7 linked regions of the Homo sapiens genome follow. The protein of the gene in region 1 interacts with the protein of each later gene in a biochemical or structural test. Each region holds a gene or a part of one and is shown on either strand. Other genes may lie near its edges.

The links.
Region 2: the proteins of SHANK1 (region 1) and MUC3A interact in a test that uses a peptide from one of them, tested with the Homo sapiens proteins (one large-scale study listed by IntAct).
Region 3: the proteins of SHANK1 (region 1) and ATP2B1 interact in a test that uses a peptide from one of them, tested with the Homo sapiens proteins (one large-scale study listed by IntAct).
Region 4: the proteins of SHANK1 (region 1) and KCNJ9 interact in a test that uses a peptide from one of them, tested with the Homo sapiens proteins (one large-scale study listed by IntAct).
Region 5: the proteins of SHANK1 (region 1) and FLVCR1 interact in a test that uses a peptide from one of them, tested with the Homo sapiens proteins (one large-scale study listed by IntAct).
Region 6: the proteins of SHANK1 (region 1) and SMCHD1 interact in a test that uses a peptide from one of them, tested with the Homo sapiens proteins (one large-scale study listed by IntAct).
Region 7: the proteins of SHANK1 (region 1) and AMOTL1 interact in a test that uses a peptide from one of them, tested with the Homo sapiens proteins (one large-scale study listed by IntAct).

Annotation. Positions count from the first base shown.
Region 1 is NC_000019.10:50,709,091-50,713,575, reverse strand, and holds part of SHANK1 (SH3 and multiple ankyrin repeat domains protein 1), read left to right. Parts: intron 1-1,461; coding exon 1,462-1,629; intron 1,630-2,088; coding exon 2,089-2,205; intron 2,206-4,485. UniProt on the Homo sapiens protein: Seems to be an adapter protein in the postsynaptic density (PSD) of excitatory synapses that interconnects receptors of the postsynaptic membrane including NMDA-type and metabotropic glutamate receptors via complexes with GKAP/PSD-95 and Homer, respectively, and the actin-based cytoskeleton.
Region 2 is NC_000007.14:100,952,271-100,956,755, forward strand, and holds part of MUC3A (mucin-3A precursor), read left to right. Parts: coding exon 1-4,485.
Region 3 is NC_000012.12:89,617,966-89,622,450, reverse strand, and holds part of ATP2B1 (plasma membrane calcium-transporting ATPase 1), read left to right. Parts: intron 1-659; coding exon 660-902; intron 903-2,210; coding exon 2,211-2,452; intron 2,453-4,485. UniProt on the Homo sapiens protein: Catalyzes the hydrolysis of ATP coupled with the transport of calcium from the cytoplasm to the extracellular space thereby maintaining intracellular calcium homeostasis.
Region 4 is NC_000001.11:160,087,137-160,091,384, reverse strand, and holds the end of KCNJ9 (G protein-activated inward rectifier potassium channel 3), read right to left. Parts: intron 3,900-4,248; coding exon 3,568-3,899; 3' UTR 822-3,567; downstream 1-821. UniProt on the Homo sapiens protein: Inward rectifier potassium channels are characterized by a greater tendency to allow potassium to flow into the cell rather than out of it.
Region 5 is NC_000001.11:212,895,878-212,900,451, forward strand, and holds the end of FLVCR1 (choline/ethanolamine transporter FLVCR1), read left to right. Parts: 3' UTR 1-3,486; downstream 3,487-4,574.
Region 6 is NC_000018.10:2,700,726-2,705,210, forward strand, and holds part of SMCHD1 (structural maintenance of chromosomes flexible hinge domain-containing protein 1), read left to right. Parts: intron 1-9; coding exon 10-193; intron 194-2,966; coding exon 2,967-3,161; intron 3,162-4,485. UniProt on the Homo sapiens protein: Non-canonical member of the structural maintenance of chromosomes (SMC) protein family that plays a key role in epigenetic silencing by regulating chromatin architecture.
Region 7 is NC_000011.10:94,864,955-94,869,439, forward strand, and holds part of AMOTL1 (angiomotin-like protein 1), read left to right. Parts: intron 1-987; coding exon 988-1,214; intron 1,215-4,243; coding exon 4,244-4,485. UniProt on the Homo sapiens protein: Inhibits the Wnt/beta-catenin signaling pathway, probably by recruiting CTNNB1 to recycling endosomes and hence preventing its translocation to the nucleus.

The sequences.
Region 1 (4,485 bases):
CACGGCCTCCTCCCCTAAACACCCAGAACGTCTCCATCCCCTGTGGCCCAGCTTAATACCAAATCTGCCTCTGTCTCCCCAAGGTGTAAACCCTTCTCATTCCTTAAAATACGAAGTGAGCTCCCTGCTATGCCCCCAGATAGAGCCCCTCCACACACACCCTGAAAACAGCCCCCCAGCTACCCTTCCAAACCAGCACTGCACCAGCTCCCCTCCCTCCTCTCTCACATGCAAATACAGCCCCTTCCCCACGTACACAGCCTCAAATGCACTTTCCCAAATAGACAAACCCATACACCCACAAAATACATACACAGCGGCAGCTGCACAGTCTAATTTTAAAATACTCTTCTCCCCCTGCCCCCGCCAGGACACCTGATTGCTCTTCACATGAGGGTCAGGATGGGCTGCCCCCAAAGACAGCCATTGAGAAGCACCCCGACGCACAGCTGCTCCAGCTAAACGGCCCCTCCCTTCTCTCCCTCAGATGCTTTCCTGAAGAGCCCCTAATGCAGTCAGATGCCAGCCACAAAGATCTGCAGTATACCCCTGGAGTTAACAGATCCTCTTCATGTATCTCCCATGCACACTCACCCCCAAACCCACATCCTGCTCACACACGCCCCTCCCAGCCTCCAGACCTGCGCTATCCAAGCCAGTAGCCACTGGCCACCTGGGGCTGTTTAAATTTAAATTAAATAGAATGAAGTAAAATTAAAATTTCAGTTCCTCAGGCTCACTAGCCACGTTCAAGTGCTCAGGGGCCCACACGTGCCTGCCATATAGGGTGGTGCAGTTGCAGACCATCCCCATGATGGGGGAAACGTTCTGTTGGGTGGCACTGCTACAGGCTGTCCTCACACGAGGTTGCTGCCAAGACTTTCTCCTATTAATGTTCATTATTGCCAGCCTTCCACACCCAGAGCTGTCCTTCAAGTGGGGGCAGGAAGTGGCCTCCAGCCCCAGTGAGGCCGGCCCGATCCTTGCCCTTACCCAAGCTTACCTGTCCCCTGGCTTCCTGCTGTGCCCCTTCTTTGAGATCCTGGACCTAATAACACCTCCCACTTGGTCAGAGACCCTCCAGCATCCAGACTCTGTCCTCTCACTTGTCCCCAACAACCCACCTGTAGGAAGTGGAATGGGTGGGTACTGTGGCCCCTAATGTCTTTCAATGGCTCATCCAAGATCGCCCCCAGGGGGAAGGCTGGGTGGGATGTCAGAGTGCAAGTGTCCTCTGGAGGCATCTACCCAAGTCCCACATTGTTCACACGGAATCAGAGTGGCCCAGGGAGGGAAAGGGCCAGGCTCAAGGTTGCACAAGGGCATCACGGCAGAACTGAGACTGTCATTGGCCACTGTAGGTCACCCAGGACGGTCCAGTCCCCCTGGCCCTTCAGAATGAGCTGGTTAATGTGTGACTGTCATCTGTGTTTTTCTACTGGGTTCTCTCTCCGTTCCTAGGCGCTCCTGGACCTTGGGGGTTCCCCCAACTACAAGGACCGTCGGGGGCTGACCCCTCTGTTCCACACGGCCATGGTGGGTGGTGACCCCCGATGCTGCGAGCTGCTCCTGTTCAACAGGGCCCAGCTGGGCATAGCTGATGAGAACGGCTGGCAGGAAATCCACCAGGTGCTCCTGATTCAGGCCATGAAGGGCTGGGGTGGGGGACCCAGTCCCTGAGGCATCCAAGGGGCTGGGGCTGGGAACCAGATGCCAGGGTCCTCACAGAGCATGGGGGTGAGAATAACATGGTCCCCAAAGAGGAAATGGTGGGGGTGAAGGCAGAAAGACCCTAAGGGGGCATAGGCTGGGGAACCTGATGCCTTGACCCCTGAGAGGGATGGGCTGTCCTCTTGACCCCCTTAAGGAGGCAGACCAGACGCCTGGGCCTTGGAATGACTGAACATTTGGGTTTTGAGGCTGACAGCCTGGGTCCCAGAGCAGGAAGCGGGGCTAAAAGGTGATGGGGAGGTGGATGCGGTGAACGATAGGATGAGAAGGCCAGTGCACAGGTCATAGACAGACTCTTGGCCCAGAGGGAGAACAGCCTGGGTCTGATCCATGCCCCTCGCTCCCTGTCCTGCCCAGGCCTGCCAGCGGGGTCACTCTCAGCACCTGGAGCATCTGCTTTTCTACGGGGCTGAGCCTGGAGCCCAGAACGCCTCGGGGAACACGGCTCTGCACATCTGCGCCCTCTACAACAAGGTCTGCCTAGCAGCGGCCACCCCAGGCCCCTCACATCCCCGATAGCCGCCTCCCCCAGGGCCAAGCTCAGACACTCCTCTTGACTGCATCTCTGCACCCTCCACTTCTTCACTATTTCCACCCTTTCATCCAGTCATTCCTCCATTCATTCCTCCATCCATCCATCCATCCATCCATCCATCCATCCAACAGATATTTACTGAGCTCCTCTGTATCAGGCCTGGAGCTGGGTGCTGGGGACAAAGTGTTGAGCTCATGGCCTAGCAGAGGGCAGACAACATAGTTTGCTGCTACAGTCCAGAGTGCTCAGAGCAAAGTCACAGGGAATCCAGATCCCTGCGGGAGCCCACATCTGGGACTGGGCTTGGGATGGAGTGGCTGGGGGTGAAGGTGGCTTCCTGGAGGAGGTGCCCCCAGTGTTAAGATGAGCAGGAGTAGAAAAGAGGAGAAAGGGGTGCTCCAGGGTGGGGGCACAGCCTGTGCAGAAAGCCAGAGGAAAGGGGGCTGTGGGTCCTCAGTTCCCCTGTGTCTGCATTCAGCCAGTGGTGTGTGCAGGTGCCACGTGGCGGCACGGCAGGGCACAGGGGAAAGGCCAACGTGCAGCCCCCGTGGCCCCTGAAGGGAATGACAGTGGGATGGGAGTTTTAGCAATTCAGGACCTTGGGGGTCCTGACAACCTGGGTCCCTGAGCAGGAAGGGAGTGCTGAAGGGAGATGGGAAGAACACCCCCACTTCTGGAGTTCCTAGGAGAGGAGAGGTACGGAGCAGGCAGGGGGGCTCGTGGCAGCTGGTTGGCAAGAGCCGGGTCTTTCAATGTCATGACCTCTGGTACTTTAGCCACCTGAGCTGCAGATGATCCTGGGCAGGTCAGCCCCATGGAAAGCCTCAATCTCCCCACCTGTTTCTTGATGCTTCCTGCCCTTGAAGGGCAGCTGGTGGGGGTACTTAGAGAGACAGGCGCTAGCATGACAGAGCTGGTCTGTCAGCCCCCTTCCTCCAGGAAGTCTTCCAAAACAGCCCTCAGCCCCCTCTGCCTCGGCAGAACTTGCAGTGCTGGGGATTTGGCGGGTGGCCACGTGCCGCCTTGTGGCAGCCAGCAGTATGCCTGGAGCCCAGGGAAGACTCAGTGTTTGTCAAACCGAACCAACATGGTGCCGGCACTTCTCTCCCCACGTGCTCCTGTCTCCTGCTCTGCGACACAGGCCTCACAACCAATCCTCTGACTCCCAGGCCCTCGTGCAGCTGATGGGGAAGAAGCCCTGGCCCCACAGGCAGATGGGGGTGGGGAGCAAACAAGTCCCTCCCCCTCTTTGAGGCTCCATCCTTCTTCCTGAAATGGGAATAACGCCAGCTCTTATTGACGAGGGTGAGCCATCGTGTATACTAAGTGCTCATCCCTGGAAGGCAGCCATCAGAATAATAATTGTCATTGTTACCATCACCAGTGTCAGTCAGGGTCCAGTCGAGAGACAGAAACTGTACCGTTCAGATAAACAGAGAAATTTTGGTATAGAGAATTAGACCAGGCACGGTGGCTCATGCCTGTAATCCCAACACTTTGGGAGGCTAAGGCAGGAGGATGGCTTGAGCCCAGGAGTTCGAGACCAGCCTGGGCAACGTGGGAAAACCTGGTCTCTATGAAAAAATACAAAAATTAGCTGGGCACAGTGGCATGCACCTGAAGTCCCAGCTGCTCGGGCAGCTGAGGCAGAAGGATTGCTTGAGCCTGGGAGGTGGAGGCTGCAGTGAGCTATGATCATGCCACTGCACTCCAGCCTGGGTGACAGAGTGAGACCCTGCCTTAAAAAAAAAAATTAGAATTAGACAGCAGGCAGAGTTTTCTTAGTGGGACAGTTGCACAAGTCATTTTCCCCTCCTTGATCTCCTTTCTCAGCTGTGAAATGGGTCAATAATTAATATCTACCATGCAGGCCGGGCGCAGTGGCTCACGCCTGTAATTCCAGCACTTTGGGAGGCCGAGGCGGGCGGATCACTAGGTCAGGAGATTGAGACCATCCTGGCTAACACGCTGAAATCCCGTCTCTACTAAAAATGCAAAAAAAAGTTAGCCAGGCGTGGTGGCGGGCGCCTGTAGTCCCAGCTACTCGGGAGGCTGAGACAGGAGAATGGCGTGAACCCGGGAGGCGGAGTTTGCAGTGAGCCAAGATCATGCCACTGCACTCCAGCCTGGGTGATAGAGCGAGACTCCGTCTCAAAAAAATAAATAAATAAATATCTACCATGCAAAAGGATCAAGTGGGTTAATAGGTTTGCTTGCCT
Region 2 (4,485 bases), on another chromosome or scaffold:
GAAGCCAGTGACCACCGTCACCAGTACTTACTCTATGACCACTACTGAGAAAGGAACGTCAGCCATGACATCTTCTCCCTCTACCACCACTGCAAGGGAAACTCCCATAGTGACAGTGACACCCTCCTCTGTGTCAGCCACAGACACAACCTTCCACACTACAATCTCGTCTACAACTAGAACCACAGAAAGGACTCCCCTGCCCACTGGAAGCATCCATACAACCACGTCCCCAACCCCAGTATTTACTACTCTCAAAACAGCAGTGACTTCCACTTCCCCCATCACTTCTTCAATCACTTCCACAAATACAGTGACTTCTATGACAACGACCGCCTCCCAGCCCACAGCCACTAATACATTGTCATCACCCACTAGGACCATTTTATCTTCCACACCTGTCCTGAGCACAGAAACAATCACCAGTGGTATCACAAACACCACCCCCCTATCCACCTTGGTGACCACACTCCCCACTACCATCAGCAGGTCTACACCTACATCTGAGACCACCTACACTACTTCTCCCACCAGCACTGTCACAGACTCCACTACCAAAATCGCCTACTCCACAAGTATGACAGGTACATTGTCCACAGAGACTTCTCTCCCACCCACCTCTTCCTCTCTCCCAACCACAGAAACAGCCACGACTCCTATGACAAACTTGGTAACCACCACCACTGAGATCTCCTCCCACAGTACTCCCAGCTTCTCTTCATCAACCATCTACTCCACAGTCAGCACATCCACAACTGCCATCTCCTCACTTCCCCCTACCTCAGGTACTATGGTGACTTCCACAACCATGACCCCATCTTCTCTGAGTACAGACATCCCTTTCACAACACCAACAACTATCACCCACCATTCTGTGGGCTCTACCGGTTTCCTGACTACAGCAACAGACCTCACATCAACATTCACGGTTTCCAGTTCCTCAGCAATGTCCACGAGTGTCATTCCATCTTCCCCCAGCATTCAGAATACAGAAACCTCATCCCTTGTCAGCATGACCTCTGCCACTACTCCCAATGTGAGACCAACTTTTGTAAGTACACTCAGCACTCCTACAAGTTCCCTCCTGACGACCTTCCCAGCAACATATTCATTTTCATCTTCCATGTCTGCCAGCAGTGCTGGGACCACTCACACAGAGAGTATCTCCTCACCTCCAGCCAGCACCAGTACACTCCACACAACAGCTGAATCCACCCTGGCACCCACTACCACCACCTCATTCACAACTTCCACAACTATGGAACCACCTTCAACCACTGCAGCAACTACAGGAACAGGTCAGACCACCTTCACCAGCTCTACAGCCACATTTCCTGAGACCACCACACCGACTCCTACAACTGACATGTCCACAGAATCTCTCACAACAGCCATGACTTCTCCTCCCATCACTTCATCAGTCACTTCCACAAATACAGTGACTTCTATGACAACTACGACCTCTCCTCCCACAACCACCAATTCTTTTACATCACTGACCAGTATGCCTCTGTCTTCTACACCTGTCCCAAGCACAGAAGTAGTCACCAGTGGCACCATAAACACAATCCCTCCATCTATCTTGGTGACCACACTCCCCACTCCAAATGCTTCATCTATGACTACATCTGAGACCACCTATCCTAATTCTCCGACTGGTCCTGGTACAAACTCCACGACGGAAATCACCTATCCCACCACTATGACAGAGACATCATCCACTGCCACCTCTCTTCCACCCACCTCTCCCTTGGTCTCAACTGCAAAAACAGCCAAAACTCCTACCACAAACTTGGTAACCACCACCACCAAGACCACCTCACATAGTACCACCAGCTTCACTTCTTCAACCGTCTACTCCACAGCCAGCACATACACAACTGCCATCACCTCAGTTCCCACTACGTTGGGTACCATGGTAACTTCTACATCCATGATCTCATCTACTGTGAGTACAGGTATCCCTACCTCACAACCAACAACCATCACTCCCTCATCCGTGGGCATCAGTGGTTCATTACCTATGATGACAGACCTCACCTCAGTGTACACAGTCTCTAACATGTCTGCAAGGCCAACAACTGTCATTCCCTCATCTCCCACTGTCCAGAATACAGAAATCTCAATCTCTGTTAGCATGACGTCTGCTACCACTCCCAGTGGAGGACCAACTTTCACAAGTACTGAGAACACTCCAACAAGGTCCCTCCTGACAAGCTTTCCAATGACACATTCATTCTCTTCTTCTATGTCTGAAAGTAGTGCTGGGACCACTCACACAGAGAGTATCTCCTCACCTCGAGGCACCACCAGTACACTCCACACAACAGTTGAATCCACCCCATCACCCACTACCACCACCTCATTTACCACATCCACAATGATGGAACCACCTTCATCCACTGTATCAACTACAGGCAGAGGTCAGACCACCTTTCCCAGCTCTACAGCCACATTCCCTGAGACCACTACACTGACTCCTACAACTGACATTTCTACAGTATCTCTCACAACAGCCATGACTTCTCCTCCCCCCGTCAGTTCTTCAATCACTCCCACCAATACAATGACTTCTATGAGAACTACAACCTATTGGCCCACAGCCACTAATACATTATCACCACTCACCAGTAGCATTTTATCTTCTACACCTGTCCCAAGCACAGAAATGATCACCAGTCATACCACAAACACCACCCCTCTATCCACCTTGGTGACTACACTCCTCACTACCATCACCAGATCTACACCTACATCTGAGACCACCTACCCTACTTCTCCCACCAGCATTGTCTCAGACTCCACGACTGAAATCACCTATTCCACAAGTATAACAGGTACATTGTCCACTGCCACTACTCTCCCACCCACCTCTTCCTCTCTCCCAACCACAGAAACAGCCACGATGACTCCTACCACAACCTTGATAACCACCACCCCTAATACCACCTCCCTTAGTACCCCCAGCTTCACTTCTTCAACCATCTACTCCACAGTCAGCACATCCACAACTGCCATCTCCTCAGCTTCCCCTACCTCAGGTACCATGGTAACTTCCACAACCATGACCCCATCTTCTCTGAGTACAGACACCCCTTCCACAACACCAACAACTATCACCTACCCTTCTGTGGGCTCTACCGGTTTCCTGACTACAGCAACAGACCTCACATCAACATTCACTGTTTCCAGTTCCTCAGCAATGTCCACAAGTGTCATTCCATCTTCCCCCAGCATCCAGAATACAGAAACCTCATCCCTTGTCAGCATGACCTCTGCCACCACTCCCAGTTTGAGACCAACTATCACAAGTACTGACAGCACTCTAACAAGTTCCCTCCTGACGACCTTCCCAAGTACATATTCATTTTCATCTTCCATGTCTGCCAGCAGTGCAGGGACCACTCACACAGAGACTATTTCCTCACTTCCAGCCAGCACCAATACAATCCACACAACAGCTGAATCCGCCCTGGCACCCACTACCACCACCTCATTCACCACATCCCCAACGATGGAACCACCTTCAACCACTGTAGCGACTACAGGCACAGGTCAGACCACCTTCCCCAGCTCTACAGCCACATTCCTTGAGACCACCACACTGACTCCTACAACTGACTTTTCTACAGAATCTCTCACAACAGCCATGACTTCTACTCCCCCCATCACTTCTTCAATCACTCCCACCGATACAATGACTTCTATGAGAACTACGACCTCTTGGCCCACAGCCACTAATACGTTATCACCACTCACCAGTAGCATTTTATCTTCTACACCTGTCCCAAGCACAGAGGTGACCACCAGTCATACCACAAACACCAATCCTGTATCCACGTTGGTGACTACACTCCCCATTACCATCACCAGGTCTACACTTACATCTGAGACCGCCTACCCTAGTTCTCCCACAAGCACTGTCACAGAGTCCACAACTGAAATCACCTATCCCACCACTATGACAGAGACATCATCTACTGCCACCTCTCTTCCACCCACCTCTTCCTTGGTCTCAACCGCAGAAACAGCCAAAACTCCTACCACAAACTTGGTAACCACCACCACCAAGACCACCTCACATAGTACCACCAGCTTCACTTCTTCAACCATCTACTCCACAGCCAGCACACCCACCACTGCCATCACCTCAGTTCCCACTACCTTGGGTACCATGGTGACTTCTACATCCATGATCCCATCTACTGTGAGTACAGGTATCCCTACCTCACAACCAACAACTATTACTCCCTCATCCGTGGGCATCAGTGGTTCATTACCTATGATGACAGACCTCACCTCAGTGTACACAGTCTCCAGCATGTCTGCAAGGCCAACAAGTGTCATTCCTTCATCTCCCACTGTCCAGAATACAGAAACCTCAATCTTTGTTAGCATGATGTCTGCTACCACTCCCAGTGGAGGACCAACTTTCACAAGTACTGAGAACACTCCAACAAGGTCCCTCCTGACAAGCTTTCCAGT
Region 3 (4,485 bases), on another chromosome or scaffold:
GATTTTTTCTGTTGTAAATGAGAGAAAGAAGTGAGATGCAGTTTGATGCTAAGGATGAAAATGCCAAGTCTGCCAGCATATAGAATAGCTAAAAAATGACTCATTCTAGTTTTGATATGTTAACTCTATCAGAGTTAATAATAAAAAAAAATCAAGCAACTACATACCCACAAGCTCTTTATTTTAGCTGCTAAAGGCTATTTTTTCCTTGGCACTGATGTAAGAATCTTTTGTTTTCCACTTAATAAGGAGGCTTAATCCTTTAATATACTCTTACACTACTATAAGTACCACTGTACTTAACAGTACAGATTGTCATTGCTCTTGCAATGTGAGGACATTTTGCAAAAACCGTTGGAGACATATATTCAGTATTATTTGTGTACGGATGTAGGTACCTGAATTGATTCACTAGGTTATGTTATGCAGCAATAAAATGATTGAAACCCCAGAAAGCTCTGGTACTGTGTTTAGCTTATTTTAATAGGTCAAATATGCTAAAAAAAAAAAAATTTCAGTATTACATTGGTACTTTATACATTGTATTTATAGAAAGCTGGGAGTTTTCTAATTTTAAAACAATTTATAATCATTTTAATGTAATGAGGTGATTGGTTTTATATGCAGCTTAACTAGTTTTTTTTTTTTGGTCACTGTAGAAAATGATGAAAGATAATAACTTAGTAAGGCATCTGGATGCTTGTGAAACCATGGGAAATGCTACAGCTATTTGTTCAGATAAAACAGGAACTTTGACAATGAACAGAATGACAGTCGTTCAAGCTTACATAAATGAAAAACATTATAAAAAGGTTCCTGAACCAGAAGCTATTCCACCAAATATTTTGTCCTATCTTGTAACAGGAATTTCTGTGAATTGTGCTTATACATCAAAAATATTGGTAAGGTTTTTGAAATAATTTATGAAAATTAATTTTTAAATCTATAATGATCAGACTATATGTAAGTCTTCAGACCACCATTACTGTATGTAAACTGAACTGTTAAGTTTTTAAAAGGCATATATTTATTTATATAATGGTTTTTAAATTTGTGTTATGAGTGAGGTCTGCTGATCAACATAAACATTGTTTGCTTACATTTTTCTCCTATATTTTGAATTTCCTGTGTTCAGAAACTCTCCAGCCTTATAACCAGAGCATGTATTTAATTTTAAATTCTTGTTAAGCTCATTTTTGAGAAAGATCAAACTGTCTTACTATAGGAGGTCAGCTCTCAACTTACAGAAAATTTTTAAGCCGATTTCAACTTAAAATAACATGTTTTATATATGGTTGCCATGTGTTCTGTTTGGTTTCTCAGTAGTTCCTACCTAAAAGGTGGTCCTTAGACCTTTTTAGAACTAATGCAGTAAAGTAATTCTAGACTTGTGCCACCATATAATAAAAAATTTTCAACTTACAAGTTTTAAAAATCTTATTTATAACAGAAAGAATGCGATGTTATGTTTGACTTAATCTCTTCTAGTGATTTATGGATGAAAATCATTAACAAAAATAATATTGCAAGCTGTTCATTAGGGAAAACATACATGAATTGGATGATTACATTGGAAAGTTATGGGATCTTGGTTCTAGATCTAGCTTTGCCTTTTACTAGCTGAAAGTCTGAGCTACCTTCTTTAATTACTGAGTAAAGATGATCACATCTGCCCTTAATACCATTGTGATAATTATGTAAAGTGGTATTTCTGAAGGCACTATGAAGGAATTGAAGCTTCTCACTGCATTTAAGAGAACAGTATTTTAATGAATGTACTTTTAAGCCATAAAAATTGGTAGATTTAATTTTGAATGATTTAGTATAAAAGTTAAGTGAAAACAGGAAAAGGAAATTAAAATTAAGTTCCACTCTGTATTAGGAACCAACTATAAACTTCATACATCTTATATCACTTAATTTTGGGGTCATAAGTGCTCCTATTTTACAGATGCTGAAGCCAAGGACCAAAGCAGTTGGGTAATTGTCAAATTTCACGTAGCTAGTAACTGGCAGGACTGAGATTAGAATCCATGTCATTCTCACCCCAGGCTCCTTTCTACCTTACTTTTCTATATCCTTCTTTAAAATGTTGATATTAGACAATTGCTTTGTAATTTTATTTTAGAATATCGCAGTCTGTTTTACATTATAAATTAAACGTTCTTAGAGAAACGAGATACTAGCTACTAAATGTTTTTCTCTTATAGCCACCAGAGAAAGAGGGTGGATTACCTCGTCACGTTGGTAATAAAACTGAATGTGCCTTGTTGGGACTTCTTTTGGATTTAAAACGGGATTATCAGGATGTTAGAAATGAAATACCAGAAGAAGCACTGTACAAAGTCTACACCTTCAATTCTGTTAGGAAGTCCATGAGTACTGTCCTGAAAAATTCAGATGGAAGTTATCGAATATTCAGCAAGGGTGCATCTGAGATAATTCTGAAAAAGTAAGAGTAAAATGCTTGGATGAATAAATTGCTGACTATAGTTGCTTTATGGAGTATCTACTGTGTTGTTATTGTTGTTGTCTTTTTGTGAACATCAGGCATTTGATAGGACCTCAGAGTTTTTTAGCATATTTTATGGTATCCAGATATTTGCCCCTGCTATTCTGCCATTTTCACACTCTAGCTTCTCTTATTTCTTAGCATTTTGTTATAGGGAAAATAAGCTCATTACATTCAATCTGGTATGTTTAATGAAGTATACTTTGATGTTTATTTTTAGAAGTCGATTTACTTGTTATTTAATATGCAGAATCTTGAAAAGCCTCCTGGGAAGAAAATCAAGTTTATGTCTTTCTTTCTTTCTTTTTTTTTTTTTTTTTATTTGTTTAAGGTGGAGTTTCCCTGTATCACCCAGGCTGGAGTGCAGTGGCGCGATCTCAGCTCACTTCACCCTCCGCCCCTGGGTTCAAGGGATTCTCCTGCCTCAGCCTCCCAAGTAACTGGGATTACAGGCACCTGCCACCACGCCTGGCTAATTTTTGTATTTTTAGTAGAGTCAGGGTTTCACCATGTTGGCCAGGCTGGTCTTGAACTCCTGACCTCAAGTAATCTGCCTGTGTCGGCCTCCCAAAGTGCTGGGATTACAGACGTGAGTCACTGCACCTGGCCTCAAGTTTAGATCTTCAACGCTCATTGTGGTTACTGGACTCTGAATGTGATAAGAGAATTATGAAGTAATTTTTAGAATAGCAAAGCATAAAAGCTGGATCTTGGAAATTCCCCATTTATATCAAAATGAGATTTATCATGTTTATGCTGCTGCAGTGTCGTATTTAAATATCTCCTGTCATTTTGAATACTAATTTTTCTTACTGTCCTTTTACAGATCAGTAGCTTTAATTTTGTTATTACATGTTCACATATAATTTCCCTGATGTTTATTTGTTATTAAAGGTGGTGAAATTATTTTAGTTTCTTTAATTTCATTAAAGAAGTAGAGAACTGGTTAAAAAAAAATACTGGTTAAGAGCAAGTTGGGAAAATTGGAACTCATTTGAAATTATAATATTTAAAATATTAAAGTAAATGTTTAAGATATACTTTTAATTTGCTTACATGTGGATTATAAGCCAGTATTAATGAACACTTTACAATTAGTTTAAGAGACAAATATATAAATAAATAACTGAAGGCAGCATATAATAAATTGGTACAAAGTTTTTGGGTGAGAGATCACACTGTAGGGATGTGGCATTTAAGATAGATTTTGGTATGAAATGAGAACTTCGAGGTGGGGAAACCACAGCAGAGGAAAGGAGATGAGAATATGCAGGTCATACTGGGGAGGGGAATATCTGGTTGTATAGTTCAGCTGAATAGTGATGGGCTTTTGTGGCACACAGGCCATATACAGCTTTCTTCTTGCCACAGTACACTCAGTTACCTGATTTCATTGAAAAGGTTAGAAATCTGTTTCAACCCTGGCTTGCTGGGTAGTAGATAGATGGTTTAGGAGAGAATTTTTTTTAGTCAAAACTGATCAGGCATTGACTCTTTCTCTGCAACTAACTAGCTTCTGGATATGGGGCAGATTTTTCCCTTACTTCCATTTTTCTCATCTGAGAAAGCGGGTGATGACCACCAACTCTGTGGCACTTAAATGAAGTAATGCATACCAACTGTCTAGTGTGAAGCCTGGTGGACAGTAAACATACAGCAAGTGTTCCCACAGTAATATTTGCATTTTGTTGTGGAGACTTTTTAAATGTTGGGCTGAGCAGTTAAAATTGAAGTAAGCCAGATAATGCAAATGAGGTATTTTTTTCTTCAAGTAGTAGAATCATCAAAGCTGTGATTAAAGATAATTCTTGCATCAGGGAACAAGGTGGGTTAGAGGGAAAAAAAAAATCAACTAGAGACATATCAGTTAAAAGGCTATTGCTATTACAATAGCTGTAGCTTTGTAGCTTGAAGTAAGAACCAGAAGAAAGTAGTAGCAGGAGAAATAAAAAGGAGTGGACACATTGAGGAGG
Region 4 (4,248 bases), on another chromosome or scaffold:
AATTAGTTTTTCTAAAATGTGAATAAACTTGTTTTATAAAAAGCAGGCTTGGCTGTGTCTTCCCTACCATGAGACTGTAAAACGCTCAGGGTGCATAGTAGGGAGGTGGTTGGGGATTGACAACCTATTCTGGATGACCCAGGCCTCTCTTCCCACCACAAACACCATCTGGCCTCCATGGGCCATGCCACCCACCCCAGGAGGGGACACCTGGGTTCCATCTGCAGCCTGAACTGTCGGGGCTGAGACAACTCCTGATTGGACTCCTACTTGGGGAGGGAAGCATAGAAAAGGAGGGTAGGTTCCAGCTGCCTGTGGTCACCCCCGCACCAGCTTCTCCCATGTTAAAGGGCATGGGCCTCCAGGGGCAGTGCCTTTTCTGAGCTTCCCAGACTTTCCCCAACTCTTCCCACGTCTCATTCTCCTGGTCAGGCTAGTCTTGGACCTGACTCCTCCCACTAGGCCCTGGGGCTGAAATTGTTGTTCCTTCTGACCCATAGCAGCAGAATAGAAGCCTCAGAACACAACTGATACTCAGGCTGGGACAACAGGCAGTCAGGGGAGGGCCTGTGTGTCCACAGAGCCATTGCACCCACATGTACTCGCTGTACCTGCATATACCCTCTACCCGCATATACCCACTACACCTGCATATACCCGCTTCACCTGCCTGTACCTACCCTGGGGTCTCCTCCCTCCCACCCTTCAGCTTCACCCCTCCTCCAGTGCCCCAGGAGTTTCATGAATTTTCTTGCCTAAGGATTCTCTGATCCTAAAATTCTTACCTGCACGGCACCTTAAGAGGCATCTGGCAGGCCTCCTTCAGTTGTTATTTAAACATTTATTGAGCATTACGAGTTTGCTGTCATTTTTACAGATGAGGAAACTGAGGCCCAGATATGCGATTTGCCCAGAGTCATAGAGCTAATTAGCAAGTGTCAGGAGTAGGACCTAGGTCTCCTGACTTGTTGCACTGTACAGTGGTGCCCTGAGTGGTGACAGTGGCGAGGAGAGGTGTGGCAGGGTCTCAGTGACTTCAGCAGGCAGGAGGGGCCTTTCCAGACTGAGTTTCTCTGCTTGTTCAGCTGCAATGGGTTGGCTCCTGTGTGAGTGCGTGTGTGTGGATACCAAGTAGCCCACCCGCTCTTGTCCAGACCCCCCTGTTTTACTGAAACCCAAATGAATCCCCATTCTCCATCCCAACATCTGTTCTTAGGGGACCAGTCAATGCCAGGCTTCAGGAATCTCATCTTTGATGACAGGGCCCCAGTGGCCCTGTGACCTGAGGCAAAGATATCCGTGTTTTGACTGAAAGGAAGGGACTGGGACTTGGGTCCTCTCTGAGTGAACCCCAGCTGTCTGGGCTGCTTCCATGGCCCCCTTTCTTGCTTCCAGAGGACCCATAGGGCCCTGGCTATGCCCATAGGACCCTGGCTGTGCCCCATAGGACCCTATCTGCCCAGCCTGGAACAGAGAAGACTGGAGTGCTTTCCCCAGGGGGCTTATGAAAGGGCAGGAGTGGGATGTGGCCAGGGCCAAGGGAGGAGGTCCTTGCTGGGCCAGTGCTGCTGTGTGGGAGACAGGCGCTGTCCCAGGGCAGGCTCTCCTGGGCCTATGCTTTTCTCCAGGCCAGCTTCAGGTCCCTTCCACCCCTCTGCCTCTCTCAACTTGCAGTTGTTCTCCCTCACTATCCAGGAAGCTGCCGCTGGTGACTGGGATGTGATCAGGAAGCAGGTGGAGGTGGGGTGAGAATATGCGTCTTTGGGACCCCCTGGCCCAATTGGGCTGACAGCAGGCTGCAGACACATCCAGATGTTCTAACTCCTATCGCTTCTCTCCGATTTTCTCCCACATTCAATCTTGCCTCCAGTCCTACAAGGGGTTCTGTCCTTTGCCCCTAAAACTCTTCCTGCTCCACCTCCCCCCGACCTCCCCAGGAGCCCCCTCAAGTCCTTCTGATGGCTTCATCTCTCTGTCGGGCCTGCTCAGCTTCCAGACACCCCCTCCACTTGTCACTGCCCTGTTTCCATTGATGGTTGAGTTTCTGGGCCCAAAGTTAAACTCTTCAGCCTGGGCTTCGGGTCCCTTTCCCACACATAAAACCCCACCCTTCACATTTCTCTGTCTGCTCCTGTGAGGATCCTCAGCTTCTTCTCAGCTTCTCTTCATCTTCCTCTCAGCTACTCCTCAGTTTCTATGCCCCATGTCCTGAAACGACTTCCAAGTATTCACTTAGAGCACAGGTTCTCAAAGTGTGGTCCTCAGTCCAGCAACAGCAGCATGACCTGGGGACTTCTTAGGAATGCATGGTTTTGGTCCCCACCTCTTGGGTCAGAAACCCTTGGAGTGGAGCCCAAAAATCTGTGTTTTACCAAGCCCTCCAGGTGATTCCAACGCACACTGGAGATTTCTAACTCCTGACTTACATATTCCCTATGCCTTACACTGGCCCCAGCCTTCTGATCACCCACACTCCCCTACCCTCCACGGGACTGCACAGGTTGTCAGTTTGAATTATCCCTCGTTCAGTCACCACAGGTAGATTCCTCTGTTTTCCCAGGTGCCCCTTATTTTGAGGACAGGAACCAGGTTTTTGAATGTCCACTCCACATGGCACCCAATCAGTGATGTGAATGACTGTGCCCCAAGGACACACTGCTTTCCTAGGGGCTCCCTGTTTCCCAGCTCTAGTGAACCCACTTTCTAGATCTCTCTCCTGGCCCTTCCTCCCCAGAACCTCTCTCTCTCTCTTCCTGCCTGTGCCTGATACCTGTAAGATCTCACTCCACTGTAAGAAAATAGCTATCCCTGGTTTTCCTTTCCCAGGCCCCTCTCCAGGCCCCAGCTCAGGCACCTCCCCGCTCTGCCTGCTTCCCTGAACTTGCGGACTAAGGTCATTCACACCTTGCTGAGCCCCTTGCACGCCTTCATCCTGGTGAGGGTGGAGCTAGGAGGGCACCCTCCTCATGTGCCCATCTTGGTCCGGCTCCTTTCTCCTTCACTTCAGCTTGGCCTACCGTGTCATTAGACAGTTGTGCCATATGTGGGGAGGCTGGCAGAAGAGGTGACTGGGGACTGCAATCCATCCTATACTCTGCTCCCCAAGCCATGCACCCTGGTTTGGGGCTGTATCTGTCTGGAGGAAAAGGGTTCCTTTTTAAAATTTGCACAGGGGTGTTCTACAGGTTAGTGGCAGCCCTGAGTGGACCAGTTGTCTACTGGTCCATCTATGTATCTGTCAGCTGTCTTTATCTGCTACCATCTTCCCATCCAACCCCCAAAAGTCCATCATTCTGTCCATCCATCCACTCATGAACAAATGTGAAGGTCAAACACAGACTGGCATTTTCACCCGGCCCCACCCTCCATTTCCCTGAAATCAGGACCCCTCCCTTCCATACTGGTTTCTAGACTTGAGGTTCTGGGGGACGGGGACTTTCCAACTTTAGCACATTTCCAGGGGCTTTGCCTTCCTCCTCCTCCTCCTCCTCCACCACCTCCGATATGCAGTTCCCCATGTATCTGTGTCTGGCCCCCGGTCTGCCACAGGGGTCTGGAGGAAGCTGGTCACACCTTGGACTCACTCTCTGGGGGTGGCAGGCAGCCATTCTGCTCCTTGTCAGCCCCAGCTTCCCCACCCGCCCCCTCCCCCGCCCCCTCCTCCTCCACCTTCTCATCCAGCCGGCTGGGGATGGACCAGTAGAGATGGGCATCAAGGCGGGCGGCAGCCTCTGCCAGCTCTCGAGCACTGCACGAAGGTGTGGGCACCTCAAAAGTCTCGTGAAAGCTGGCATAGTCCACTTCGTAGAAGCCGTCCTCCAGAGTCAGCACTGACGTGAAGCGGTGGCCCCACAGCACCTCGTCTACCAGGTAGGAGCTCCGAGCTTGGCATGTCATTCCTGGGAGGAGGGGCACCGGTCAGGGGGAATCTCAGCTCCAGGCTTCCCTCTCCTCTTCTCATTCCACAACCCTACTCCCAGCACCCTCCCTTCTATTCCTTCCTAAGGGCTCCCACCTCCCTTTGGTCCAGTCCATTTCCCCCCCTCCCTAGCTCCTGTTCTTACCCAGCTCCCTCGTGTCTTCTCCATTTGCCCCAACTCCTCTTAATGTCCAGCTCTTTTTTCCCCTCCTGTCATTTGGTGATGCCAACCAAAAAAAGCTTAACCTTGAAACTAACCTTAGGGATCCTCTAGTCCAACTTCTCACTCCATACAGGGCTCCCCAAAGGAGCATTTCTAACAATGGGCA
Region 5 (4,574 bases), on another chromosome or scaffold:
TTGTACTCTTGTTACAAAGTACTTTTTAACACATGCAGTCAATGGCTATAAAAACTATTCTGTGTACAGATTCTACCCAGACTTTGGTCTTAGAATTATGTTCTAATTAAGGAGCCTGGTTACAGGTTCATTCTGTCTTGAGTTCTTTTCTGTGCTGCCTTTCTATCATGGATAAATGCTAACGCTGTATTTTTTCACTCCAACTTGAGATAGAGTAGTTTTGTACCCATTGCCTTTTTTTTCTTTTAAACTCTCTTTTTTTTTTTTTCCTGATGTGTAACTTTCTAGTAAGATAATTTCATCATGTATGTTACTGGCTATTTCATGATTTCATGTATCACATCGTATATTTTGCCTTGAAGATTCCTGAAATAAGGAAATCTATAATAACTTCAGATAGCCTACATGTCCCCATTTAGTGGAGACCTCTTGAATGCTATTTGAATTCTGCAGTATCATTTTTATGACCATTCTCCTTTGAGGAATACTATGCCCAGGTACATGCTCTATCAGTGTGCCGGGAGAGTGGATTCTTTTCTTCACTGCAGAGTCATCACACTGTTAGAATAGTCTGCTCTTTTACATGCTCAGGTAGGGAAAATAGGACCAAATATATTTCCACAGTGCCTACCACTGTGTCATGTTTACAGTGAGAGTTTAAATATTGTTGATGTCCTGACTCTGTGAGCTCATAGGGAGTATCTTCATAGTAATGACATTTGATCAGCCATAAAATTTACATTATGTTCATATGCACCCAAAAAAGCTAGTCAGGTAATGAATACCCTTGAAGTGAATAGCAATTTTGATTTAGGCAGTGTGTTAGGCCATCCTTGCATTGCTATAAAGAAATATTTAGGCTGGGCGTGGTGGCTCACGCCTGTAATCCCAGCACTTTGGGAGGCTGAAGCGTGTGGATCACCTGAGGTCAGGAGTTCAAGACCAGCCTGGCCAACATGGTAAAACCCCATCTCTACTAAAAAAAAAAAAAAAAAAAAAAAAAAAAAAAAAGGCCAGGCGCAGTGCTGTGGCTCATGCCTGTAATCTCAGCACTTTGGGAGGCCAAGGCAGGTGGATCACAAAGTCAGGAGTTCAAAACCAGCCTGGCCAAGATGGTGAAACCCCATCTCTACTAAAAATACAAAAATTAGCGCAGTGGCAGGCGCCTGTAATCCCAGCTACTCAGGAGGCTGAGGCAGGAGAATCGCTTGAATGCGAATGGCAGAGGTTGCAGTGAGCGAAAATCACACTACTGCACTCCAGCCTGGGAGATAAAGTGAGACTGTCTCAAATAAATAAATAAATAAATAAATAAATAAATAAATAAATAAATAAAACCTGAGGTTGAGCACGATGGCTCACACCTATAGTCCCAGCACTTTGGGAGGCTGAGGTGGGTGGATCATTTGAGGCCAGGAGTTGAAGACCAGTCTGGCCAACATGGCAAAACCCCATCTCTACTAAAAATACATACACACACACACACACACACAAATTAGCCGGGCATGGTGGCACACGCCTGTAGTCCCAGCTTCTTGGGAAGCTGAGGCATGAGAATTGCCTGAACCTGGAAGGCGGAGGCTACAGTGAGCTGAGATTGCGCCACTGCACTCCAGCCTGGGTGACAGAGCGAGACTCTGTTTCAGGAAAAAAAGAACAGAAATACCTGAGACTGGGTAATTTATAAATAAAAGAGGTTTAAGTGGCTCACAGTTCTGCAGGCTGTGTAAGCATGGCACCAGTGTCTGCTCGGCTTCTGGGGAGCCCTCAGGGAGCTTTACTCATGGTGAAAGGCTAAGTGGGAGCAGAGATGTCACATGGCGAAGCAGGAGCAAGAGAGCAGGGAGGTGCCACACACCTTCAAACAACCAGATTTTGTGAAAACTCACTCATTACTGCAAGGACAGCACCAAGCCATGAGGGATCCACCCGCAGGACCCAAACACCTTCTATTAGGGCCAACCTTCAACATTGGGGATTACATTTCAATGTGAGATTGGAGGGACAAGTATCCCAACTATATCAGGCAGAATATATGCATTGATATATATTGAAATTATAACATTCTCTATAATCAAGTGACTGTAAATTATGTCGAATCTGACCCTGGGGAATGTGTTATCTAAAGAATTTGACTAAGAATCAGGAACTCTGTGTCCATGTCCTGGATGTATTTCTGTATGTTCCTATAACTCTGGACAAATCATTAAACCTCTCTGGGCAGCGTTTTCCTCATCCATGAAATGAATGTGTTCAATTTGATCTCAAAGATCTTTCCAAAATATTAAATGCCATTAATCATGGAATAGACCAAATTATTGTATCACAGGAACTTGAATCCAGCCAGAGAAAAATTCCCTGGACAATTGGATAAACAAATGTGATTGCTACCTTATGGATACAACGGACTTTTACATTTCTTTTTAGCCTTTTTAGTCAGTTGAGGGTAACTCAAGCAGAGTATGTCCAATCATTAGCTTCCTTTGATATTTACATTACAGGTAAAAACGGCCAAAAATATATTTTAAGGTCTCTCCCCAAATGTTTTTATTTTTAAACTATCAATGTTGTTTAAAATAATCATGTACTTGTTGAGTTCCTGAGGTTTGGAACAAATTACACATAAAATTTAGAATACTTTATTTCTGAAAAGCATATACATATATGTTATGTTTATTTTTCCTTGTTGATTAGAAAGGTGATGGAATATGTGACAATGCAAAATGAATTGATAATTTTTCTGTATTTTGAGTGAAAGTTGTCTGTAATATGTCAAGCAAGAATGTTATAATTCTACAGTAATGTGTGACTTCATGACAGAGCTACATTCTGAGAAATTTGTCATTAGGTGATTTCATCATTGTGTGAACATCATGAAGTGTACTTACACAAACCTAGGTGGTAGAGCCTACTGCACACCTGGGCTAGATGGCAAAGTCTGTCGCTTCTGGGCTACAGACCTGTACAGCATGGTACTGTATTGAATACTGTAGGCAACTGTAACACAATGGTATCTGTGTAATCTAAACATAGAACAGATAATACATTGTGCTACAATGTAACAATGGCTGTGGCATCACTAGGTGATAGGAATTTTTCAGTTCCATTATAATCTTATAGGATCTCTGTCATATGTGGTCAATTGTTGATCGAAACATGACTGTATGTCGTATTTTCAGAAAATGGAATAGGTAATCATCACTTGTGTGAATTTTAATCAAATGACTTAGGAAAGAAACTGGATGTTTCAAAAGCTGTTGCATTTATTACAAATGTCACAAATACAGCTCTTGCCTTTTGAGAATGTTGGAGAGATGTCTTTAAAAAATATGTTTGTGTGTAAAAATGTGTCTGTATGCAATAGCTAGAAAAATGCCTGTGTCTTAAGTCATTACTCATGTTCTAATTTTTGTTCTTTGTACTATTTATCTGTATGCTTGTTCTTCAGTATTTCAGACTCAAAATAAATTTATTTTTTTATGTTAATTTTCTGTGACTTTTTGAAAAATTCTGATGCTTAGGTACACATGGGGAGTTTAAAGGGATTATAAAATTTCAGAATGGGCAAAGAGGGAATGAGGTAGTGCATGGAACATAAAATGAGGAAACAAAGTCTACCAGGGTCAGGGCTAAAATAGATACTAAAATATTTTATTCCTTTAAAAGTAACTTTAGAGAGTGATGTTAGCAAGATGGCAGAATAGGAGCTTTATATCATCATTCTTCCACAGAAGCATTGATTTTTACCAGTACTTTCAGATGGTAGTTCTTTTGTAGGAATCCAGAAGTCCTACGTGGAAGTTCCAGCACACCATTGGAGCAGAAATATCTGAGAATAAATGCATTAAAGAAAAGGAAGAAGAAGATTTTCACTTTATCTGCATCACTCTTTGAAGTTGGCACAGCTTAGTGGCAAGAGAGACTCCCCTCAGTCCACAATTTCTCCCATGGGAGAAGGTGATAGCATAGTGAGAGTGCTCAGCCCCTAGCTGTGTGGGATGCTGCCTAAGAACCCTACCTCTTTCTTGCTCCAATTAAAATATTGAGGTGACTGTCATAGCTAAGCGTTGGGAAAGGCTGGGAGCAGGGAAGAAAGGCTCTGAAACCTACTCAGCACTCCACAGACTCCATCAGGAAGCCTCACCAGCCACTGGGATACCTTGCATATGGACCTCCCACATGACCCATGGCCACCCCAAATTCTCTGTGCACCTCACCCCCATCTCCCTGAGGCTGGCTTCCCAAGCATGCCACATTGGATGGCAACTGCAAGCATCAAATATAGAGACAGATGGCTTGATTGTGGAATTGAAGCAAGGTACACAAACTTGAGTACTTCAGGACACCACCCCAGGGGAAACAAACAGGAAGCTGTCAGCACCTGGCCTGGCTTTGTGGGATTGAGATAAGGCATATAACTTTTAAGAATCCCCTGCTGCAAGTGGGAACAGGGGTTGTGGAGCAGGTGAATCCACAGGAAAGGTAGGAGAGAGCCTCAGAATTCCTAGCCAGGCAGATTGATGAAGGCATTTCTCTCCTGAAGCTAGTCAATAAAGACTGGAGGAAGTGATTTT
Region 6 (4,485 bases), on another chromosome or scaffold:
CTGTTCAAGCTTTGACTGGTGTACTCCTCCTAAGAAGAGAGGGCTTGCACCAATTGAATGCTACAATAGGATATCTGGTGCATTATTCACTAATGACAAATTCCAGGTCAGCACAAATAAATTGACGTTTATGGATCTTGAGCTAAAATTGAAAGATAAGAACACCCTTTTTACAAGGATTTTAAATGGACAGGTATGATTTTTAAATATAAAGTTGTGAATATTTGCAAATGTTTTATTTTTAAGTAAAAGAAGACACTAGCAGTGTAGGTTTTTATTGATATTTTGCATCAAAAGACTATGATGTATAAATTTTTTTATGAGCAGTCAAGTGTTCACATTACTAAAAAATTTAAAGCTAATTTTTTAGTAATGACTAAACCTACCTAGTAAAGACTAGGTTTGGATAGAATTTACATATCTTCATTAGTTTTTTTTGTTTTTTTTTTTTTAAGACAGGAGTTTCACTCTGTTTCCCAGGCTGGATTGCAGTGGCTCAATCTCAGCTCACTGCAACCTCTGCCTCCCAGGTTCAAGCTATTCTCCCGCCTCAGCCTCCCAAATAACTGGGACTACAGGTGCGTGCCACCACGCCTGGCTAATTTTTGTATTTTTAGTAGAGATGGGGTTTCACCATGTTGGCCTGGCTGGTCTCGAACTCCTGACCTCAGGTGATCGACTTGCCTTGGTCTCCCAAAATGTTGGGATTACAGGCATGAGCCATCGCACCCAGCCAAGATCTTAATATCTAGCCCTTGACATAGTAGAAGCCACAGAAGCATCTTAATGAGAACATGTATGAACAATTGTATTTGCTTTAAGGGCTATATTTGTATATTAATAACCTAGTTGTGCAATTTTTAGCTAGTCTTGAGGGTAAAAATGGGGTAAAACTGTGAAGTACTTTGAGCTAAAAGGTGATTTGAGATTGATCAGTATTAAAATACATGTATTGATTAATACAACAAGAATGATTTCACTTTGAAATTTGTTACAAAGTTGAGTGAAACTAGTATACTAGTGTACTTGTATTCTGTGAACAGACCTCAGAGACTTTTGATACTACTCTTTCAGTAGTTTAATGTTGAATTGCCAAGAAATAGATGATTTTATTATCAATTTATTGCTGGGCAATAAATACAGTGCATAGTACATAGTATTTGTAGTCAGTCAGTCCTGTAAGATGTTGAAATTAATTTTGCTCTTATAAAGCTTGTGAATCATAGAAGATTAGGACACTTTTAAGAATTATACACCGAGAAAGACCTTATCAAAATGAGTTACTACTCCTTTATAATACACTTAGAATTCATTTATAATATGGTGTTAGTTATCCAACATTTATTGAGCAGTGGGTGTTTTCAAAAGCTATCCAGAATAAGTTAATTCTATTCCTTTGTTACACTGTACTTTTAAAATATATATTTTCTAATTTTGAAACATTCAAGCTGCGCATAATGGTTCACACCTGTAATCTTGGCTACTTGAGAGGCTGAGGCAGGAGGATGGCTTGAGGCCAGGAGTTCAAGACCAGCGTGTGCAATACAGTGAGACACCTTCTGTATTTAAAAAAAAAAAAAAAAGAAGGAAATGTTCAAATACACAGAAAAGTTGAAAGAATATTATAAAGTGAATATCTGCATACTTTTCCCCTAGGTTACCTGTCACCTTGACATGCCTTCTGAATTGTACTTTGACTGTTACTGAGTGTCTGGAATTAATGCATTTGGTAATTTGTTTGGTTGATAGTGAATCCATCCTGAGAGTTTTAGAAGGGTAGTTTAACATTTTGGTTGTCAGACTTTCTGGTTCCTAGTTACTAATTTAATCTCCATGTCAGCTGGCAAACTGACAACAATGATTTGCTGATTTGGGAAAGAGTTGGTACCTAGTTATAGGAGTAAGTGTGGCAGCAATTTCCCAGAAACTGTATACCATATTGGACCTGTGAGTCTTTACCATGTATATATATTTCCTTTTTCATTCATATAACTTTAAAAAAATCAAATTTATTAATAACTAAGATAGTATCCTTCTTGACAGCAAGCATCAAAAACTTAGGCTGAAATTATTTTTAATTTTGCCTTACTTTCCTTTGGAAATGGTATATTATGGTATAAGGTACGTAAGAAGGAATGGAGTTCTGTAACTTTACAGACTGTCCTCTGCGAAAGCATGTAATGGGGAGATTGTCTTACCTCCTCATTGCCCTAGAGGCAGGCATCAAACAAGTGTATAGCACCTTATGCTTGAATACAGATTTCTGTATTCTCTCCCAACAGGGTGAAGAATGGTTGGCAAAAACACATCTTCTTAAGTATTATTAGAAAACACTTCAGTTTTATGAGTTTATTTTTTGGATAGGCTCTATATATAAAAGAGAAAATTAAAAAGAAAAGTACATTTTGCATAGCAGTGTTTCTCAACCTTTTTTCGTTATCACCCTCATAAGGAGTCTTTCTTGGCATCTTTTTCTCAATTGTTTTCCCCAATGAAATTTTACTACTGCAGATTTACCATCTATCTGTTTGTATATTGTATTCACGTTTATAAAGTACTTGATACACAATGAGATTTTTATCGTCCCATTGAGAATGTGGTTTACAGTTAGAAGGCCTCCACTCATCCCTTTTGTGGAGCTAGCTAGTTCTCCTCCCAGGCAGTAAGGGTTCATCAGTTTTTAGTGTATCCTAGGAATTAAAGGCGGAAAGGAAGGTTTTATTGTTGATATTGACCAGGGATACCTTGGTTCTAAGAATAATATCAAATTTTTCTTCTTTGGTAATGCATTTGTTTGAAATATCCTAAATGTGTACAGAGGAAGGATCCAGCAGAATATTTAATTTTTTATTAGGTTTTCTGAATTGGAGTATATGAAAGGAAAAAAATAAAATGAATGACAAATGTTTATGGTTATATTTGTTTGCTAGTAGCTATATTTCATAAAACATTTTAAAATTCTACAGGAACAGCGAATGAAAATTGACAGAGAATTTGCTTTGTGGCTGAAGGACTGTCATGAGAAGTATGATAAACAAATAAAATTTACACTTTTTAAGGGAGTAATTACACGTCCTGATCTTCCTTCTAAAAAGCAAGGTCCCTGGGCAACATATGCAGCAATAGAATGGGATGGAAAGATATACAAAGCAGGACAGCTGGTAGGTTTAACTTATTGTCACTTTTTTCTTATAATTTTTAATTTAATTTAAAACACATATGCAGAATCACATGTATAGAAAATAAGCTATTTTTAAAAATTTCTTTTTTTCCCATTCTCACATTTCATGAAGAACATTTATTCAGACTCTTCACAGGCCTGTTTGACATCAGTGTCTTCCATCATCTCTAAGGAAATTTAACTTATTTTTAGATTCAATTTTTAGTAGAAGTTGAGACTAAATTAGATGTATTAAAATTTAACAACAGTAACAACAAATAATGCAAATATTGGCTCCTCAGGAGCTAGGTAAGAATGAAAAGGACAAACTGATTTTAAATTCCATAATTTATTATAGCATTAAAAAAACTATTGCCAGAGGCTCAATTAACAAGGTTTTTATGGTTTCCTAAACTAAACTTTACTCACATGGAGATCTCAGTGTTTTTTGTTTGTTTGTTTGTTTTTAATGTAATGCGTTAAGTAATGATTTTTAAGTATTTTTTTGTTGAGCATCTGCTGACATAGTAAGTTACTGCACCTTTTGACTGTGTGGTGGAGAATTCAGAGATATAGGAGATGTGCTTTGCTCTTGGTGATATTATATCCTAGCAATGGGGATAGTGTAAGCATAAATAATAGGTAAGAAGTGGATCAATGCAATGGAAAGAAAGGATTAATAGTGTTTTGGCAGGTTAGAAGGAGAGAAGAGGAGAGGATTTTTTTTTTTTTTTTTTACTTTGGTTGGTCGTGTGGGCTGGAAGAACAGAGCAGATCGTTAAATACTTTGGAAAAGAAGTAACATTTGTGTGGACCTTGAAAGGGGTAGAGGCTCAGGTTTACACAGATAATTACAAGGTAGAAGGCTCTCTGTTCTCTCCATAAATGAGAGATACCATCATATATTTAAAGCTATAGAATTGGATGAGATCATCTATACTTGGTGAGTATAGCTAAAGAGGTAAAAGGATTGAGCCTGGAGCTTTCCCAACATTTAGTGGTTAGAATGAAAAGGAGGAGCTGGCAGAGGAGACTGACAGGGATAAGCTGGTGAGACAGAAGGAAACTAGCAGAATGTGACATCCCTAGAGCCAAGTGAAGAGTTACAAGAAGAAAGGAGTGATCAGTTTAGTCAAATGCTTAGTGGTAATGGAGTAAAGTGCTTTCTAGAAGGTAATCTGAGCATAGAGATGTGCGTAGGTTAAGTGCAGAAAAACAGCAAGTAGTAAGAGTTGGGTTGTCCTGCTGCCTATTGTATGTGTGAAGAGAAATAGTTTAGAAATGGGGCAGGCAAGGTAGGTTGGGATAAACTCTTATAGTCCTTG
Region 7 (4,485 bases), on another chromosome or scaffold:
GTGAGCATGAGGTCTCCAAAAACTCTCCTCCCCCATGCTGTGCCATGGAGAGAAGGAAAAGGTTCCAACCTAAGCACGTGGTTCCACTCAGCAATGGATCTGGTGCCGGAGTTCTCTGGGGGAAATTGCGTGTCACCTGCCGGTTTTAAGATGCAGGCTGAGTCTAGTGACAGAAGAATTTAGATGTCTGTGTTATTTCTTGGTGTCTATCTCTATGACATTATGAGCTGAAAGGGGGAAACATTATATCCCAAAGATTCAGAGTTTTTGAGCCAGAATTTATATATTCCAGTCCAAAATAAAGAACATATTTAGCTAATGCACTCTTCTGATGGGCTACACAAAATTTCCAGCAGACTTTTTGACATAATAAAACTAGCCTGTCCCCCTTCACTACCTAAGGGCTTGTGGAACCCTGGGAGCCCTAGGCCTCTTATTTTGCAGATGTGAAAATAGGGCTGAGTAGTTGAGCCATTGATAGATAGGCTCAGTGAGTTACTATCAAAGTTGTGAAAATAACTCAGCATTCTTCCAGAAAAATCATCTTCTACCAGAGAACCTGTTCATCTTGGTTCTTTTTTCTTAGAAAATAGAGAAATTGACTTTAGCTGAAAGCTCACCCTGTTTGAGGCTTTAGAGTTTTTATGCTTCCCTATCCCCTACCTACCCCCGGCCCCCACCGCCAATGCTAGACCCTCTAAATATGGTCCCCAGCCGACTTCGGTCCAGGAATGTGGCCACGGTCATTCTAACTGTACCTCGCTGAAGTCCCAGTCTCCCAAGGTGCCAGAGAAGGTGTACTCTTTTGACATATGACAAAAGACCTGTCTTAACAATTTGGAGATTATCAACATTTGAAGACTCGTACTGTGCTTCATCCTGTATCCCTAAATTACAATTAAAGTCTTTGGGACAGCCTGAGATAAATGTTTCAAGTTTTTCTAGCCAAGTGGCTTTTTATGGAGACTGTTTTGTTTTGTTTTACAGTATTAAAAATCTCCATGCCAAAATCATAGAGAAAGATGCTATGATTAAGGTCCTGCAGCAGCGATCTCGTAAAGATGCCGGGAAGACAGACTCCTCCAGCCTACGTCCTGCCCGCTCCGTTCCATCCATAGCAGCAGCTACTGGGACACACTCTCGCCAGACCTCTCTTACCAGCAGCCAGCTGGCTGAGGAAAAGAAGGAAGAGAAGACCTGGAAGGGGAGCATAGGTGAGCCCCACACCTCTGTCAGACCATGATTGGAAAAGCAAGACCAGACAGCTTCTCTGCCACTCATGGGACACGGAAATGTCCCTGAATAGTTCCTGGTCTCAGTTTACTCATCTGTGAAGTGGGGAGGGAAATCAGTCATACTTCAGTTATAGATATGTGGAAGCATTGTGTAAATTCTAAAGACTGCACCACTGGAGTAGCTCTTAGCCATGGGTTGACTCAGATCAGAATTATCTATTATTGTTGTAAGTTGAGGTGACCCTTATAACACAAAAGGCTCTCATAGAAAAGCCTAGAGACATCACGCCTCTGAACTTGGCTCTGCTCTAGACCAGTTGTATGACGGCTCCACCTCTGCTTCCACGTCTGGAAAGGGAGGACAGTGTCTGCCTGCTTTACCCCATGGGGAGTGGGAGGGAATAATGGGATAATGGGGGGAGGAGAGTGTCTGCCTGCTTTACCCCATGGGGCGTGGGAGGGAAGAATGGGATAATGGTGGGAGGAGAGTGTCTGCCTGCTTTACCCCATGGGGCGTGGGAGGGAAGAATGGGATAATGGGGGGAGGACAGTGTCTGCCTGCTTTACCCCATGGGGCGTGGGAGGGAAGAATGGGATAATGGGGAGAGCACATTGGAAGAAGTGCTCTCTCGCATAAGGTAGGGGTGGTAAGTTTTTGCTGTATTGTTGTTGCATGGGCAGAATTCCCTAAGTGTGGTCTTAGCCAGGAGTAGGTTTCTTGGGGGCAGGCAGGCTTGTTGGCTGGCTGGGCTAGCCAAGCTGGAGGGGAAGCAGGCAGCGTGCTCAGACACAGGTCCTCCACATCCTTCCCCTGCACTCTGGCCTCTCCAGGGGTCTGGCCCTTCTTTGATGCATTTCCCCACATCAGATCGTGTTTTTGTTTCTCTGTGCAGCTGAGAGCCAGTGGTCCTCAGCATAAGACCCCAAAGGAGACTGGCTGCTCTGGGCCAGAGGGGATAAGAGCTTCCATATGAACCCGACAGAGTTGGGGGGATCAAAGGCTCCCAACCAGAATCTGTGTTTGAAGTCCCTCCACTGGTGGCTTCAGCAGCCCCTGCCCCCAAAGGAAATGCACTTCAAAGAAGACGTGTGTGGACAGCAGCTGAGATCATCAAAGACTGTCCCAAGGACATTTAGCTCCCACCCCAGCTAGAGAGCTGGGAGGCAGTGCTGAGCCAGGCCTGGTCAAGGAGTTTGAAAATTTGCTCAGCTCTGGTAGCAACCTCCCTGGGAGTCCCCTGTTTGTGACGTGCAGCCAGGCAGGCATCTCTGGTGTCTGTGCCCGTATGCCCCAGGACCTGGCATGTCTAAACCAGGCCTGGGAGCCGGAGGACTTGTTTGAAGGAAGAGCTGCTGTGTTCCCTGCACTGATATTCCTCCTCATTGTTGTCATTGGTGTCCACGTGTCACAAACACAGGGACTCTCCAAGGGGCTGAGGCAGGTTCATGGGTGACTGCACAGTTCCCCACATGTTGTCACCATTGCTTGCCTGATAGGCTCTGGAAGGAGGTGGAGGTGACAGCATATACCTTCCCAATTGCCCAGGGTATCCCAGGAGCTATGGCTGGCTAGTGACTTATTCAGCCTGTCACTCCCTACGAGGACATCCTGCAGACTCTGGAGTTTCCACAGGCTGGGCGATGAAGTGGAAAGAACATAGGTTGGACTCCAAGTCAGGCACAGTTGGGTTTGAGTCCCATTTCTGCTGCTTCTTAGCTGTGAGATGTTAGTTTTTGTGAGCTTCCATTTCCTTCTCCGTAAGACAGGATAAGGCCTGTCTCGCAGGAATGACATGCAGTATGAAGTGAGATGATGTGGGAAGCGCAGGTGAAGGCCTTTGCTGCTCAGCGTGGTCTGTGGACCAGTGGCACCAGCACCATCTGGGAGCTTCTTAGAAATACAGAATCCCAGGCCCTGCCTGCTGGATCAGGTCTTCCTTTTAACGGTATAGCCAAGTCATTGTTATGCACATTGCATTTTGAAAAGCACTGCTCTCGACAAACTGAACTGCCCTGAGTTCTAAATGGGCACCTTAAAACAGCTCTGGCGAGGATACTTTATGAATTGCTGGCTATCTAACCAGATAAGAGAACAAATACTTGATTGCGCTTACCGCCTTTTCTATAGGCTAGCATTCTAGGGTGCTGGCACTTTCCCGCGTGTGTGCTGTATTTAAAAATAAAAAGTTATCCTCCCACCCAGCTTTCCAGGAAGGCTCTGAGGAAAATGGACACCTCTGCACACCACGCCTCCCATTTCCATAGCCAGCATCCCCTCTTCCCCACCCCAGCCTCACTACTCTTGAGGAAGGGGGTAAGGAGAGGGCTAAGTGGCCTTTCCTAGGAGGCTGGCTGGCTTTCTGCTTCTGGGAGGCTACAGTTCCACCGCAGAAATGTGCAGGTAGCATGTTTATCTTTGAATCCAAGCCTGTGGGGGACCATCATCCATTACAAGGAGTGGGGTGGAATTGTGAACTATTCAGAAGAGCAGCAAGCCAATGGGAACATGTCTAGGACCGGGGAAGCCTTGTAGTTTTTCTTAAGCACACTGCCACGCTTCAGGCCAGCCCTTCTGGGCCACGTTGGTAACAGCAAGCATGGTCTCTGGAAAGCCTTGTGGGAACCTCCCTACCCCTCCTGCTGGCAATTAGGCACTTCTCTGTTCGTCCATACCACCCTGTGAATAATTTATTTGTATCCTACAGTTTATATATTAAGTTATAATCAGTTTACTTGACAACTACTTCTCCACTCCAAAAAAAAAAAACAAAAAAAACACACAAAAAAAACCTACAATTTTTTAGGAAGGGGACTAGGTCTTCCATTTTTTATTCTCTCAGTGTTTGTTATTTTATCAGCCTTGTAATAAGTGTTTATTAAATGCTTGGGGAATGAATCAATGAATGAATGAAGCAATCATCAATCAACAAGGAACAGATCTGCAAGACTAGATTTAAAAAAAAAAAAAGGAAAAAAAGAATGTTGAAAAATCTGTTCTCTGCCCTCAGGATTGCTGCTGGGGAAGGAGCACCATGAGCATGCCTCTGCCCCACTGCTGCCACCCCCACCCACCTCAGCACTGTCCTCCATAGCCTCCACTACGGCAGCCAGCAGTGCCCACGCCAAGACAGGCAGCAAGGACAGCAGCACACAGACTGACAAGAGTGCCGAGCTCTTCTGGCCCAGCATGGCCTCCCTTCCCAGCCGCGGCCGGCTGAGCACGACCCCTGCTCACAGCCCCGTCCTGAAA